Linked DNA regions of Homo sapiens: region 2 is linked to region 1. Evidence: fine-mapped expression QTL. Tissue or cell type: esophagus mucosa. Region 1 holds a variant in brackets; the other region holds the start of a gene. All regions are shown on one strand. Distances are between the middles of the regions.

Region 1 (2,841 bases):
AGTCAGATCATGTCACTCCTCTGCTCAAAAGCTTCCCATGGCTCCCCATTTCCAAGGGCACTCCACCTCTCTGACGTCATCTCCTACCATGGTCCCCTGCGCTGACTGCTCCAGCCTTCTGAGCTTCCCTGCATTCCCTAAAACATGCCAAGGGTGCTCCTGCCTCAGACCTTTGCTATGCCCTTTGCCCAGAATACTTTTCCCTCAGGTACCCATCAGGATCACTCCTCGCCGTGCCACTTCAGGAACATGGCTTGACTCTCAGAGAGGCCTTCTCCCACCCCAGACTCCATGCTGCAGCTCCTCCAAACTTGAACTTCCTCTCCTTGCTGTGTTTTTCTCCATTGTCTCTCATTTTCACACTCTTATGATTTACTTATTTTTTTTTTGCAGTCTCCAGCATTAGAATGTAAGCTCTATGTGAGCAGGAATTTTTGTTGGTTTCATGCACTATGGATTCCCAGCACCTGGGACGGGCCTGAACATAAATATTTGAATGAATAAATAAATGAAGGAACAGATTACTCCTGTCCCATGAGAGTTCTTCAGCAGTTATACCCAAGGGAGTGTCTTTTGTTTCTGGATCTTGCTGGACAAGAATCCTACTCCCTTTCCAGTGAGCCCTGGGCCATCCACAGATCCAGCCTCACCTACAGATGCTCTGTGGAAGGGTGGGAACAGGAGCAACAGGAAGGGGTCCACCTCCTGCTTCGGTCAGGACACCTGCACACCTTCCTGAGGTTACATGCGGAGGACCGTAAGCTCATTTATTCAAACAAATATTTCAGACGACCTCTTTGACTACTTCAGCAGCATCCAGAGGGAAGCCGTCACTTCAGAAACATTTGCTGATCGCCCTGGTATGTGACCAGCACGTGATTGTTTTCTCAAAAATTTGCATCAGTGGAAAGGCAGAGGCAGCAGTAGAGAAGGAGGTAGGAAAGAAAAAATGGGAGGAGGAGCAAGGTCTCAGAACCACGCATAGGACTGTCTGTACTATGGCCCGGAGCCCTTGGATGTAGAAATAGAACACGCTGTGCTTTGAGTCAGCATCTGATAAAATAATCTCAGAGTAAGAAACAGTGCTGAGGAATAGTGTTTAGTGCTTTCAGGCTGGCTTTGCCTGTACCAGGTACGTACCTGCATGCTGGGCCCCTGAGCCAAAAAAACTCCCATTCACACCAGTGAGTGTGATTTTAGACTCATTCTGCATTGTTGACCAATAACCACACTTACATCATTTATATTTACTGAGTTGAAAAATCCAGGATCTATTATATGTTCTAACCCGATTTTAAGCTTCAGGAAGAGCAAAGAAAAAGGCAATGTTTCAGGGAACAAGTCCTCCAGCGCACACAAGGGGATGACTCTATTTTTAGTGCATGTGTTAACATGCAGCTATATTTTGGGGAGGATTCTTTTTCCACTTCCAATGGACTTTTAATTGGCAAAAGTTTTAATATCAAAACGTGCACCATTCCCCAATCGAAGCATGTCACAAACTGCCCCATGCCCTGAATACTAAATAAATCTGAATTAAAATAAAAATAGAGACAGCAAAGGGATTAACAGTTCCTTGCTCTTTCCTATTCATGAAAGCCAAGCCTTGAAGGTGGCCCATGAAGCAGAACTAAGCCCTGGTTTTTCAACTGGTTTTCCCAGGTTGAGGGG[A/G]AAAAGTAGGGGTTAAAAACAAGGCCTTTATATCATGCAAAGAGCTAACCTCAGCACCCCCTGCTCCCAGATGTCTCTGATAGAGCTGTTTCCCTAAACTTTCAGAACCCTGGCAGCTCCCCCAGTTTCCAGTCATCTCCTGGGGGTGGCATGTAATGGAATGTAAATTTACATGTAACATAGTTGAGGGTCCGTTCTCTTTCAATCTGTTGGACTAGGTAGACGTGGTTAGTTTCCTGCTAGAAAAGGGATGCTTTCTGACATCTCATGAAAGTTCTTAGAAGAAACTGCAGCCCAAAGAAGTTAAATGACTTCCCTGAAGGGTTACAGGTGTGGAGGAGCAGAACAGGACTAGAACCCTGGTCCATTTTTTAAGAGATGGGGCTCTCACTTTGTTGCCCAGGCTGGCCTTGAACTCCTGGCTTAAACGATCCTCCCACCTCAGCCTCCCAAACAGCTGGAACTACAGGCATACAATATGGTTCCTTGTTTGGAACTCAAATGGGCACCCAGGATTACTGACAACGGACAAATTCAACAGTCCTAATTTAACAATATTGAATATTTATTTCGAGGAAGTCATGGGGCTAACTGCTCTCCCGCTCCTAGCACCTGATCCTTACGCTGGCAGGGAAGGGACCCGCATCAGGAGGATAAATCCACATGGAGTGGTGCGGTGGGGTCGGGAGGAGGAGATCTGCAGCACCCACCCAGGAGCTGGCCAGGGCAATCTCCAGACAGAGTCGGGGTGAGCAAGGAACCGTGGGGCGTCCCCCAGCAACAGGGATTCACCTCTCCTGAGGTGAGGTTTCTAGGGAGGACTAGCAGGGGCAAGATGAAATTGCCCCCTCACCTGGTTTTACCCTCCAGTGCTGAGAAATTAATCAGGTGGCTGGGCACAGTGGCTCACACCTGTAATCCCAGCACTTTCGGAGGCCGAGGCAGGGAGAGATCACGAGGTCAGGAGATCAAGACCATCCTGGCCAATGTGGTGAAACCCCGTCTCTACTAAAAATACAAAAATTAGGTGGGTGTGGTGGTGCACGCCTATAGTCCCAGCTACTTGGGAGGCTGAGACAGAATTGCTTGGGCCCAGGAAGTGGAGGCTGCAGTGAGCCGAGATCGCGCCACTGCACTCCAGCCTGGGCGACAGAGCGAGACTCCATCTCA
Region 2 (2,659 bases), 110 kb after region 1:
TATACATCATTTATGTAGGCAGAAGCATTTTCATCCACTCTGGGAGCATTCAGACCACTCCTCCCGACACCTGCCTCTTCAAGAGCATGAGACTGGGGTGGGGAAGCTGAGCCCTTGAAGTTGGGGATGGCAATGGCAAATTGGGCACCCTGGGAGAGTGGAGACAGAGACGGAGAACTGAGGGAGGTCTGGCTTAGTGGCCTGGAATGTAAGTAGGGGAAAAGCTGCAGGACTCCAGGTGCCTCAAAGCTTCCCCCTGGGTCTCCCCCGCCTCTTCCCCAGGGCTCCTGCAAATATGCTCATCTGTTGAGCCCTTGGCTCCATCCCAGGGGATCAGTTTTTTCATCCCATGGCTCAGAGGCATCAAGTCGGCCTGTACCTTTGGAAGAAGGCCGAGGGCTTAGCTTTATGGCTTCAGAATCCGAGGCTCCACCAATCCCCAGCATGGCCAGGGGCCAGGGAAGGGTCTCTGGGAGCCTGCTGCCCAACAGCTGTTCCCTGGGTTATTTTGGTCTAGTGGGAGTCTGTCAATTCTAGGGCATTTGGACCAAAATAGCCAACAGCGGGACAATCTCTTGGTAGCTCTGTGGGGACCCCTCCCCATATAGAAGTTTCTAGAATGAGGTGGGACAGAAAGAAAGGAGTTTGGCATCGGGGTGGTGAAGAGGGAATTTTCCTGCCAGTGTCAGAGGCTGACATCAGCATTTCCTCACTGTCCTTTCATCTCAGCCTTGGCACGTTCCTGACTGCCTCCCTAGGCTATCCAAGGTGGGGTTTTGAGGGGGAGAGAGGAAAAGATAATTTTTGAACTTTGTTCTTGACTTCTTGGTCCTCCCCCAAAGCTGATGAGATATATATTACCTTTTTCCATTTCACAAATGGAGCTACCAGGTCCACAGAGGCAGAGGTACTGGTCTGAGGCCACACAGCTTGGAAGCCAGGCCTGGTGACTCCAGGCCTCAGAGCCTCAGCAGCTGGACCTCTCAGACCAGCAGCTGATCCTTGCATGGATGCCAGTTCCATCCAGAAGTTCGGGGCCGGCATGGAAAGTGCTGACTGGCCCTGCAGGCCACAGCGGGGGCCCTGGCAGCCACTTGCCTCGCTCACCCTCCAGCCTAAGATGGTTCAAGTGCAGGTGGGGGAGGGAAGAGGGAAGACCAGTCACTCACTCTCTCCCCTTGGAACCCCGCCCAAATTCAGACCAGCAGACCCTGGCGCGGCACCCGAGAACCTGCAGGGATTGCCCCCGGAGCAGAGTCAGAGTGACCCAGGTCCCACTCCCTTTGGCGACATAGGGTGGCGTGCAGGGAGCGTGCTTTGGCACCAGGCGGGCGCGAGGGGGCAGGGCGCACGCCCGGGACACGCCTTAGGGAAACCGCTCCTGGGCTTGGTAGCTGAACTTAGACGTCGAGTGCAGCCCGCCCGGTGCGCGCGGCGTCTTACTGCCAGATCTCGGAAATCAGCTGCCAGGGTGGGGCCGCGTTTTGGCGACGGCCACTCGGCCACCCCTGCCGCTCCCGCCTCTCCCAAGAGATTTTTCTAGCGGGTTAATTTCCTGTCCGGGTAAACCCTTTGGTGAGTCCCTCGCCCCTCCCTCCCCGCCCCTCCCCTCTCCATCCCTGCTGTCCCGGCTCCCCAGTCCGTCCGCGCCGCGCTCCATCGCCCCCGCACGCCCGGGCGCACGCCCTCCCCGCCCGGGCCGCCCTCTGGCTCCCCGCGCCCGGCAGCCAGTGCCTCACCGCGCCGTCCCGCGCCAGGGCTCGCTCCGAGAGCCGCTTCCTTCTCGCCGCGGCCGGCGCGGGCCCCCCGGCCATGCGCCCCCGAGCCCCAGCCTGCGCCGCCGCGGCGCTCGGGCTCTGCAGCCTTCTGCTGCTGCTCGCGCCCGGGCACGCGTGCCCCGCGGGCTGCGCCTGCACCGACCCGCACACCGTGGACTGCCGCGACCGCGGGCTGCCCAGCGTGCCAGACCCTTTCCCCCTGGACGTGCGCAAGCTGCTGGTGGCCGGCAACCGCATCCAGCGGATCCCCGAGGACTTCTTCATCTTCTACGGCGACCTGGTCTACCTGGACTTCAGGAACAACTCGCTGCGCTCGCTGGAGGAGGGCACGTTCAGCGGCTCGGCCAAGCTCGTGTTCCTCGACCTCAGCTACAACAACTTGACCCAGCTGGGCGCCGGCGCCTTCCGCTCGGCCGGGAGGCTGGTGAAGCTTAGCCTGGCTAACAACAACCTGGTGGGCGTGCACGAGGACGCCTTCGAGACCCTGGAGTCGCTGCAGGTGCTGGAGCTCAACGACAACAACCTGCGCAGCCTCAGCGTGGCCGCCCTGGCCGCGCTGCCCGCGCTGCGCTCCCTGCGTCTGGACGGGAACCCCTGGCTGTGCGACTGTGACTTCGCCCACCTCTTCTCCTGGATCCAGGAGAACGCATCCAAACTGCCCAAAGGTGAGCCGAGCCGGCTAGGCTGGGGGAGGGAGGGAGGGGGGCAGGGAGAGGCCACCCCAGACCCCAGTCTGGGTGGGAGGAGCCGTGGGTTGAGTTTGGAAGAGGAGGCTTGGGGGATCCTGAACTTTTCCTGGGTCTCTGCTGGGGAAGTGGGTGGAGAGGGACGCATCTGGAATTCTTTGGAGTTTCTGAACCCTGAGGCTGTACTTCTTCCCC

Which allele goes with the higher level. Alleles are on the strand shown, and positions count from the first base shown. SD is a standard deviation of normalised expression in the study named.
With allele G in place of A in region 1, the expression in esophagus mucosa of the gene that starts at base 1,403 in region 2 is lower (moderate effect, 0.48 SD a copy in GTEx).

Evidence for each region. PIP is the estimated chance that this variant, and not a neighbour inherited with it, causes the effect.
Region 2: it holds the start of LRRC38, and the variant in region 1 is fine-mapped to the expression of LRRC38 in esophagus mucosa (GTEx, PIP 0.94).

Annotation. Positions count from the first base shown.
Region 1 is chr1:13,618,255-13,621,095 of GRCh38, reverse strand. No RefSeq gene overlaps it. Among named protein-coding and RNA genes, the nearest start is that of PDPN, 36 kb to the right of the region's middle. The variant A/G (reference allele first, on the strand shown) is at 1,672.
Region 2 is chr1:13,512,747-13,515,405 of GRCh38, reverse strand. LRRC38 (leucine rich repeat containing 38) reads left to right here and starts at 1,403. Exons shown (of 2, transcript NM_001010847.2): 1 at 1,403-2,443. The coding sequence starts at 1,813. It overlaps LOC107984918 (a long non-coding RNA gene), which reads right to left and starts at 2,186. Exons shown (of 3, transcript XR_001737896.2): 1 at 2,065-2,186; 2 at 862-1,115.